Regions from separate parts of the Homo sapiens genome. Here region 1 is linked to region 2. Evidence: fine-mapped expression QTL. A gene starts in region 2. The other region holds a variant in brackets. All regions are shown on one strand. Distances are between the middles of the regions. Region 1 overlaps KISS1 (KiSS-1 metastasis suppressor). Region 2 holds the start of REN (renin).

Evidence for each region. PIP is the estimated chance that this variant, and not a neighbour inherited with it, causes the effect. A credible set is the group of variants that fine-mapping cannot tell apart.
Region 1: its variant is the best candidate, but not a certain one, in a credible set for the expression of REN in testis (GTEx, PIP 0.57).

The regions. Positions count from the first base shown.
Region 1 is chr1:204,187,500-204,192,872 of GRCh38, reverse strand. KISS1 (KiSS-1 metastasis suppressor) reads left to right here. Exons shown (of 3, transcript NM_002256.4): 2 at 1-99; 3 at 2,076-2,532. The coding sequence ends at 2,389. Among named protein-coding and RNA genes, the nearest start is that of KISS1, 6.3 kb to the left of the region's middle. RefSeq lists an enhancer at 3,312-3,391. The variant G/A (reference allele first, on the strand shown) is at 2,642.
Region 2 is chr1:204,163,319-204,168,691 of GRCh38, reverse strand. REN (renin) reads left to right here and starts at 2,355. Exons shown (of 10, transcript NM_000537.4): 1 at 2,355-2,496. The coding sequence starts at 2,399. RefSeq lists cis regulatory regions at 2,096-2,111, 1,981-2,288, 2,273-2,295, promoters at 1,772-2,206, 2,207-2,358, 1-2,370 and a silencer at 2,499-5,373.

The DNA of each region.
Region 1 (5,373 bases), 24 kb before region 2:
ACTCACTGGTTTCTTGGCAGCTACTGCTTTTCCTCTGTGCCACCCACTTTGGGGAGCCATTAGAAAAGGTGGCCTCTGTGGGGAATTCTAGACCCACAGGTATGTATCCTCTGGGGAAAGGAGTGGGAGGGAGCAAGTGGGTTGTTGCAAAATGAGCTTTCCCGTATTTTCCATCTAGTCGACTGGTGTGAGTTTAACATTGCATTTGGTGGAAATCTAAGACTGGCACACATGCAACTCATTGAGGGGGTCCTGTTAACCCTGCAAGTGACGGATGCCTTGCCTCTGTGATGGCCTCAGTCCGCCCACCTAGGTTCCAGGGCTTATTAACCCTTGAGCTCTTTCATGGTTTCCTCACACTGTGTTCTCTGCTCTACGTCAGCAACCTCTCTGTGCCGATGTTGAGAAGAAACTTCATATGCAACCTTGCTTTATCGGTGACCTCAGATTCTTTGTGGAGAATTTGGAAAAAAAAAAAAACCTAAACCAAAGGGCAGATATTTGATACCTATTAACCTTTTGGAGACAATGAACTGTCTCCAGTTCATTGGGGAACTGATAAGCTGGAAAATTTGAGACCCACAGAGGTAAAGAGATTTCCCCAGAGTCGCTCAAACACTGTGGAAACCCAGCAGGTGTCAGAGCTCCCCAGGAGTGTGTCTGGTGAGTGGCACAAGCTAGAACAATACTAGTCCCCAAGTCAGGAGCTGTGGCTTGGCACACTTCCTGGTGTCAGCTTTCTGGGCAAACTAGAACCCATGACTTAGCTTCTCTGGACCTGAGTTCCCCCAGCTATAAAACTTGGGGCATGCCCTCTACACATTTGATGTCATCGTATATGCCCATAAGACCTTCCAGAGCACAGAGGACACGGCCCCGGGTGTCGTTTGCCAAGCGTGTCTTCTGTCCTGGGATCAGGCGTTTTTCTGGGTGAGGGAGGCTACCCCAGAAAATAACCCCACACTGCCCAGGGATATAGGGTTGTTGGCTCTTTTTGGCAAAAGGCTTTAGGTGAGGTCACCAACAGCAGCCTGAACAGTGATTTACTACTGGTCTAGCGTGCGCAACTGGGGAGGAAGCCATCCTCCTCCTACCTCAGCCAGGCCCTGGGCAAGGGCTGAGGGACCTCGCAGGCGACTGCCATTAACTCTGGACCAGGTCCACACTCCTCTTTTCCAGACTGTGCCAGGGCACGGAGGAGCAGGGCTCAAAGCCAACTGCCGCCCCAGCACATCTATTCACACCCATTCACACACCAGGCCTCATTTCCACTAATCTCTTGCCGCAATGGGCTGGGGTTATTGTCTACACAGAGCTAGTTGCCCTATTTTACAGCCAAAAAGTACAGTGAACTTAATGAGCCTTGCATGTGAAGTGCCTTCCAAATTAGCCTTGTTAATCCTCAGAATGAAGGAGAGAAGTTATACCCAGGATGGAGGAAGAGAGCCAGTTAAGGTGACCTAGATAATTTTTGTTTCTCATTGAGTCCTTATGTAGCTTATTGGGCGGGGTTGGGGGGGTGGGTGGTCACAATTCTTATCAAAGACGAGTGTTGGAACACAGGTGTGTGGGGCCACAATGTCTTAGCTCCACTTTCTCGATTTCTGTTACTACACGTTTTTAGCTTTTATGTATTTAACAGGCATTTATTGAGGCCCCACTATGAGCAAGCCACTGTTTCAAGCACTATGAGAGATACAGAGATGAATTAACATGGCCCCACTGCCCAGGCTGCTCACAGCCAGGAAGGGGCCCAGAGCTGGGTGTTCAGCAAATACTTTGGTTTTCTTTATTTCCATGCCCTACCCTGTTTGTTTCCTAAAAGGAAGTAACGTAATATGAGAGTTATTTAAGATAATTCTGGCAAACATTCTAAATCAAAGCTATGTTGGAAGAGGGAGGCGCCTAGGGCCTAATCATCCCAGCTAAGGTGATCGTGCTGGTTCGCATGGCACTGAGCTCCGAGCTTCCAAAAGGTCAAGGAAGGAAAAGAAGGATAGGATGGGATGACAGGAGGTGTTGCAAAGCCATCTTTCCCGGACCCCGGCCTCATCTTTCTGTGCCCTCTGTCCTAGGCCAGCAGCTAGAATCCCTGGGCCTCCTGGCCCCCGGGGAGCAGAGCCTGCCGTGCACCGAGAGGAAGCCAGCTGCTACTGCCAGGCTGAGCCGTCGGGGGACCTCGCTGTCCCCGCCCCCCGAGAGCTCCGGGAGCCCCCAGCAGCCGGGCCTGTCCGCCCCCCACAGCCGCCAGATCCCCGCACCCCAGGGCGCGGTGCTGGTGCAGCGGGAGAAGGACCTGCCGAACTACAACTGGAACTCCTTCGGCCTGCGCTTCGGCAAGCGGGAGGCGGCACCAGGGAACCACGGCAGAAGCGCTGGGCGGGGCTGAGGGCGCAGGTGCGGGGCAGTGAACTTCAGACCCCAAAGGAGTCAGAGCATGCGGGGCGGGGGCGGGGGGCGGGGACGTAGGGCTAAGGGAGGGGGCGCTGGAGCTTCCAACCCGAGGCAATAAAAGAAATGTTGCGTAACTCACTGACGTGTGGTCTGCGGCTCATTTTTGCAAGCAGCTCTGATGAGGCTGTTCCCCTTCCATCCTCAATGGATGGTTAGCTGATTTCAAGAGGCCTCTGGTGTCATTAAG[G/A]TCAGTGCTTCTCACACTAGGTGTAATGAAGGAACAGGCGGTTAGTTCTCCAATCCATTGCAGATTGGTACTTAAAAAAAAAAATTAAAATGGATCACTGAAAATCTGAAAAATTTAAAAACAACAAAAGAGAAGACCAAACTGTATGCTGCTGGAATGTTTCAGCGATATCAAATTTCTATAAAAATTTCTGGAGATGTCCTCAGAATGCCCAGACTTATCTCCCTGAGGATGGGTGACATTTTGCAGAGGGTCATGGCTCACTGCCCACACTTTGAGTAGTACTGGGGGATAAGGGAGGCATGGGGGAGATGGACTGATTAAGTACCTTTCCCTTTCCCACGGAAGTTGGGCAGCTTGATCTGGAAGATGATGCCAATCACTGCCCTGTCCATTGAGGCTTAAATATCATCTGAGCCCCACAGTCAGACCCCTGCTGGGGTCTGGGATGCAAAGGGCATCAACAGTGGACCAGCCACTCACTCTTCCCCCTTCCCTCCAGGGAGCCAGGTTGGGTCTTTACACATATTGCTTTCCTTCATCCTCATAACTACCCAGGGTGATGGGAATGCATTAGCCCCATCTTTACAGGTAGAACCCTAAAGTCAAGAAGGATAAACCACTCGCTCCAGACACATCGGCAATGAGCTCCAAGCCTAATAGGTCTCCTGATACCAGAGCCTGTCTTCCCCACTGACCTGTCATGCCTCTCTGCCATGGCAGGGTTTCCATCTGAGTCAGCCAGGTGCAGATCAAGAAAGCGTAGCCTGCCTCATGGGGACTTACTTTGGGGTGCAATAGCTGGGGAGTAGAAATTGTGGTAGGAAGAAGTAGAGCTCGTCAGTGGGAAAACCCCAGGAAATCCACCCTCCTGCCGACAAGAAAACACAGCACTACTTAGCCTCGGGGTACCCCTATACTGCACAGTCTAGGATGAAAATGTTCTTTCCCAGAGGGATCGTAGGACCCGTCTCCATACAGTGAAGTGACACAGTGTTCCACCCACTACGGAAACCAGGACTCCACAGGATGGAGGCAGAGCTGTGTTGCTATGGCAATGAGATAGGCTGTCATGGGAACATGACAACATGCTCCCCCATCTCTACCCTTGAAACAGCTCTCCAGGATCTCCCAAATTATCGATACTGCTGTGAGCTCACATCATCACGCATCATGACAGCATGATGTTGATATTTAGAAGGGCTTTTTATTCCTAAACACTCTGGGGTGTGTCTCTGTACCTCTAGGAGGGCAATCATCAACTCAAGACCTATTCTATTAAGCATGCTGTTCTCCTAGCCCCTGGAAGCAATCCTTTATCTGATGATGGGCAGGAAGAAGCTGATGGTTTCCTGAATTCTGCTCTGAATTTTTACAAAACTTCCTGTGACCCCATTTACTCTTCCTCACAAGCTTAAGCTTGGGCAGATGGGAGGAGTGTGTGTGCCGCTTCAAGTGCGGGAGAGTGAAATGTGTTCTCTGGTGTGAGAAGCTGGGGTGTGTGTGAGAGGGCATGTATGAGGGGGGTCAATATAAGAAACTGCATGAAGTTCATATGCACATGCCTGTGTGACCTTGTGTATAGTGTGGGTTCCTCTAACCATCTTCCAGTCCTTGTCAGCACTGCTGCAACCCGAGGGTCCCCCAAGATCTCTCGTCTAGCTGACCAGAGGCCCTGCTTCAGCAGACAGCTAGAAGGGGGTTGAATGCCCATCCCATGCTTCTAGCAGCCTGAACTGCTACCTTTGAGACTCTGGGCTTTGCAGTTCTTGGCCTCGTGTCTTGGGAAAATATGGGGAGTCTCTGTGGAACAAAAGGGATTTCTGATTTCATGTGGCTCCCAGCCTGTGAGCCTGCTATCCAGATGGAAGGGAAGGAGAGGAGGAGATTGGAGGCTGTGAAGAGCCCCAGGGATTCCCTTCCCTCCCTCCAGCCTTTCTGGGTGGGCTCAGAGAGTGGGGCACCAGAGCCCAAACACTTGGAGGTAGGGCTGCCTGCAGGCACTCGAACCTACTTCTTCCTGGGGTCTCTGGACAGTGCCCAAAGGGGAGAAATCAGCAGGGCCTGGCATCCCTTGTGATTGGAAGTGGGAGGATCTCTTCCCAGGCTCCATCCCGTTTGGTAAGTCATTTACAATAGATGTGGGCTAGGAATTAGGGGGCAGGGGTGAGAGGGATGCAGGGAGATTTCTGCCTCTAGTATCGTTCTTATCACATTCATGAGCCATTTTTGAGTACCTGCAGCATGCCAAGCACAGGCCTACCTCATTTTATCCTGACAACTGCATGAGGTGGGAGTACAATCCTCATTGTATAGAAGAAAAAACTGAGGCTTGAAGAGGTTTAAGTAGTGTGCTCAAGCAGTTGTAAAGTCGTAGAGCCAAGAGTCAGACTCCCACATTCTAATTGCAAACACCATAAGCTTCCTACATACTGTAGCCTTTCCTTCTTCTGTAGCCCCTATGCCACTTAAGAAAGCACTGCCAGGTAGCAAACCCAACCCTTTTCCTGAATGATTTGTCTTGGGAAGCAGTCTGGCAGGCAATGTCACTCTATCCAACCCATCTGCAGTGCCTCTCCACAACACTAGTGACAATACAGACAAGTCACCAATCCCCAGGGCAGGTCTCCTCTTCTCAGACCACATGCCAGGGGCCAGGCATCTGCTCTTGCCCCTGCCTGCCTTCTCTCTCTGCCAGCAGCTTCCCAGGTCTAGAATTGGTCACAGGGAGG
Region 2 (5,373 bases):
GGCAGATCATGAGGTCAGGAGATCAAGACCATCTTTGCTAACATGGTGGAATCCCGTCTCTACTAAAAATACAAAAAATTAGCTGGGCGTGGTGGCACGTGCCTGTAGTCCCAGCTACTTGGGAGGCTGAGACAGGAGAATGGTGTGAACCCAGGAGGTGGAGCTTGCAGTGAGCCGAGATTGCGCCGCTGCACTCCAGCCTGGGTGACAGAGCAAGACTCCGTCTCAGAAAAAAAAAAAAGGCTTTCTTGACTCTGGAAAACAAAACATAAAGAATTAGCAACATTTCAAACTTAATTTAGGATTAGATTTTGAGGACATTTGTCAAAATGTTAAAGCCTCAAACCATTTGATCAAAACAGAACCGCCGGTCTTTGTAAAATAATAATTATTCATTTCACAAAAGTGATAATTAAAAGACTTTAATAGCAATACAGAAAGTTACATGAATATAAAGACTTAACCTTTCTAAAGCTCAGTTTTCCTAAGTAATCAAAAACCTGATAAAGATAACAAGAATGAGGAATTATCTTGAGAAAATGTAAAATCTTTCCTTTTATTTTTTGAGACAGGGTCTCACTCTGTCATCCAGGCTAAAGTGCAGTGGCACAATCATAGCTCACTACAGCCTTGAACTCCTGGACTCAAGTGATCCTCCCGCCTCAGCCTCCCCAGTAGCTAAGACTACAGGCACGCACCACCACACCCAGCTAATTTTTTTCAGAGATGGGGTCTTGCTATATTGCCCTGGCTGGTCTTGAACGAGCTTCAAGTGAGCGTGAGCCTCCTACCTCATCCTCCCAAAGCACTAGGATTACAGGCATGAGCCACTGTTTCCCAGCCTAAAATAATTGTTTCTTAGGCCAGCTACCAAAAACGCAAAGAAAAACTTTCTGTAGTGTGATTGCTTCTTCTTATGGGAAGCCCATTTAGATAACCTGTAAGTCAAACCTGATGAAAACAATACTTGAATGTAATCAGACACAGAAAGACTGTTCAAGGCTATGAGTAGCTGAGTCCAAGCTCGTATCACTTGCCACACAACAGCCAATAAGTCTAGAGACAAGGTATTGTGGCAAGGAAAGCTACCTTATTCAGAGAACCAGAAAACCAAGAAGATGGTGGACCAGCATCATAAAGAACCATCTGAAGTCAGCATGAACGTTAGGCTCTTCTTTATGTTAAGGGAAGGGGAAGAAGAAGGGGATTGGGATCAAGAGGTGACTGATGACCACAGACACCTGGGTGCCAGCAAGGGTCTGAGGACGTTGTAAAACTTCTTTTTTCTAGGTCAGGTCACAATGTTCCTATACATCTTTAACATAACATTGTTATTTGTCTGTATATTTCCTTATCTCCTTGGGGGTTAGTTTGGGGAAAGGAACTGTTACCATTTTTTTTAAAGTTGAACTGCAAGCTAAACTCCTATAATTAGCTGGTCTATGTACAGAGCTAAGCAGAAGCTTTTAGCCTAAAGGATAATACCCCTGGGGGTCAGAGGCAAAATGGAGTCAGTCATGCTAAGTCTCCCTCCACTCTCTTTCTTTTTTGAGATGGAATTTCACTCTTATTGCCCAGGCCGGAGTGCAGTGGCATGATCTCAGCTCACTGCAACCTCCGCCTCCTGGGTTCAAGCAATTCTCTTGCCTCAGCCTCCTGAGTAGCTGAGATTACAGGTGTCCATCACCACACCCAGCTAATTTTTGTAGTTTAGTGGAGATGGGGTTTCACCATTGTTGGTCAGGCTGGTCTGGAACTCCTGACCTCAGGTGATCTACCCACCTTGGCCTCCCAAAGTGCTGGGACAGGTGTGAGCCACCATGCCTGGCCCCTCTACTCTTATAATTAAACCAGCTGTTGCTTTTCCTGCCAAGAAACCAGTCATGAAGATTCACCCATGTTCTAGATGGGAAAACTGGGCTGTAGCCTGGGAGAGGCCAGTCAGGGACAAAGCCAAAGTTAATATAGAGAATGGAGCTTCCAGGGTATAGGGGTTGGGTCTGGGCTAGGGAGCTGGAAACCTAGGTTTTACGCTTGTCCCAGTTTTGATGTTAGCCCTGAGCAGTGCTGTTTCTCATCAGCCTCTGCCTGCTCCAGGGGTCACAGGGCCAAGCCAGATAGAGGGCTGCTAGCGTCACTGGACACAAGATTGCTTTCCCACAGCTGTCCTTCCTCCAGCCCCTCTGCTCCCCATCCGGAAACCTGGGTACCCTTCACCCACCTAGCTCTGTCCCGCAGTGAGATTTATTGCTGACTGCCCTGCCATCTACCCCAGGGTAATAAATCAGGGCAGAGCAGAATTGCAATCACCCCATGCATGGAGTGTATAAAAGGGGAAGGGCTAAGGGAGCCACAGAACCTCAGTGGATCTCAGAGAGAGCCCCAGACTGAGGGAAGCATGGATGGATGGAGAAGGATGCCTCGCTGGGGACTGCTGCTGCTGCTCTGGGGCTCCTGTACCTTTGGTCTCCCGACAGACACCACCACCTTTAAACGGTAATTGGTAACTCAGGCAGAGAAGGGGTGGGAGGGGTGCAGGGTTCCCACCTTCCCAACACCCTGGCTTTTCCACATGCGGTGTCATTCAGTCCTTACGATCAGCTGGACAGGGAAGTATGGACCTGTTCAGAGAGGTCAAGTGACTTGCCCAATAAATGACACTAGTAGTCAGGTCTAGAAGCTGTGACTTTTGCTTCCTGCCCAGAGCACCATGCTAACTAAGCACTGTAGAGAACTCAGAAGTATTAGGACATGCCCCTTGCACTTGAGGAGCTCACAGCCTGAATATTAAGAAGGGCATGGGTGGTTGGGCGCGGTGGCTCCTGCCTGTAATCCCAGCACTTTGGGAGGCTGAGACGGATCACTTGAGGTCAGGAGTTTGAGACCAGCCTGGCCAACATGGGGAAACCCCATCTCTACTAAAAATACAAAAATTAGCCGGGCATGGTGGCAGGCACTTGTAATCCCCAGCTACTCGGGAAGCTGAGGCAGGAGAATCGTTTGAGCCCGGAAGGTGGAGATTGCTGAGCCAAGATCGTGCCACTGCACTCCAGCCTGAGTGACAGAACAAGACTCCATCTCAAAAAAAAAAAAGACGGGGGTCGGGGCATGGGTACAGTTAACTGTACCAGGGAAGCAGCTTGATATCGTGGTTAAATGCAAGGCTTATAGAGTTAGATTGCCTTCATTTAAATTTTGCTTCACTAGCAGAACAAACTAGGTCTGGAATCATGGGCAAGTTATTTAACCTCTCCAAGTCTCAGTTTATCATTTTAAACAGGTATGATAATAACAGTACCTACTTGATGGGGCTGCTTTGGGGATTTTAGGAGATAAGGCATAGAAAGCTGGGCACGTTGTAAGAGCCCAGCTACTGTTAGTACTACAGGATAGATTCTTACAAATATCAAAAGCAAGGTTTGGCCGGGAGCAGTGGCTCACGCCTATAATCCCAACACTTTGGGAGGCCGAGGGGGGCAGATCACCCGAGGTCAGGAGTTCAAGACCAGCCTGACCAACATGGAGAAACCCTGTCTCTACTAAAAATACAAAATTAGCCGGGCGTGGTGGCACATGCCTGTAATTCCAGCTACTTGGGAGGCTGAGGCAGGAGAATCGCTTGAACCTGGGAGGCTGAGGTTGCAGTGAGCCGACATAGCGCCATTGCACTCCAGCCTGGTCAACAAGAGCAAAACTCAGTCTAAAAAAAAAAAAGAAAGAAAAAAACAAGGCTTTAGGTAGCCCACAATTAGAAGGAGAAAACCTTAGCATCCCCTAGGTGCCAGGCCTTGTGGGAACAAGTGATTCATTAAGACTGTAGAAGGAAGCTGGGCACGCGGCTCATGCTTGTAATTCCAGCACTTTGAGAGGCTGAGGTGGGCAGATCGCTTGAGCTCACGAGTTCAAGACCAGCCTAGGCAACATGGTGAAACCTTGTCTGTACAAATACAAAAATTAGCTAGGTGTGGTGGTGCAAATCTGTAGTCCCAGCTACTCGGGAGGCTGAGGTGGGAGCATCACTTCAGCCTGGGAGGTGGAGGCTGCAGTGAGCAGAGACTGACCCACTGTGCTCTAGCCTGGGTGATAGAGCCAGACCTTATGTAAAAAAAAAAAAAAAAAAAAAAAAGACTGAAGAAGGGGAAGAGACAGCATTTGAGAAAAGGCCTCACAGAGAAAGGGGTTTTCAATCTGGGGACAGCAGATATGACCAGCAGTCCTGAAGGTAGGGAGGCACACTTTAATAATGGTAATAGTTGCTAAGCCTATAAAATGCTTAGGGTGTCACAGGATCTTTTCACATGTCTCATCTCAAGTCATGCCCCCAACAACTCAGCATTCCCACTTTGCAGATGAGGACACTGAGGCTCAGGGAGGTGATATGTAAGAGGCTAAGCCTCAACACACACTGGGCCTTTTGCTTCCGAAACTGCTTTCCCTTGCTCTGAGGCTCTCGGAGAGTAATTGCTGGGTTGTGAGCACTGGGTAAGAGGATGGGTGCTTCAAAGCAGCTGCACTCCAGGATAAAGGTAGAGGAAAGTAAAAACATCTTCCCCTGCTGTTATCCAAAAGAGAAAAAGAATGGAATTGGGCAAGGGGTGGAGGGGGAATCCAGCTTTTGAAACAGTATTATAGGAATTTTGCTACCCGCTATGTGCAGAGCATCATGCGAGGCACTTGGGACAGCTGAATGAATGAGCTCCATTCTCAAGGTGAACATGTACATATACACACCTACAATTTACATTTATTGAGCAGTGGTCGCATGGTTTCATCTGCACAGTGACTCTGAGGTAGGTACTACCATTAGGCCCATTGTTAGAGAGGGGTTAATGGAGACTTAGAAGAGGCCCAGAGAGGTTAGGTAGCTTTCTCAGAATCACATAAGTGGTAAGGGGATTCAGGCATGCCCCCTGCAACCACTGTCTTCACCACCGTACGGCACCAGTTCCACAAGCTGTACAGTGTGGGCTGTGAGACCCAAGGAAAAACAGAGCTGAGGCCCACGGGAAGGTGAGGCCGGTGTGGGCTGGAGGCCTTGGGGTAAGCTTCCTGGAGGTGGGGGTACATGTTGGGCCTTGGAGGACTAAAGAACTGGGGGGAAAAGGAAGGGAAGAAGGAAAGGATTTTCTGAAAAGGAAATGGCAAGAAGTAAAGGTCCAAAGCATAGGCTGTTGTGAGTAAACAGTGGGAAATGCAACCTCTTTGGGGCCAAACCTCTGACCCTCCACGTTCCCAGCTGTGAAGTGGGAGTAATAAAATCATCCACCTTATGAGAGCAAATAAAATAATGATTGTGAAAATATTTTGGTAACAGTAACCTGTGATAGGAAGATAACAAATCATTTCTGTTACAATACCATGCTGATAGGCATA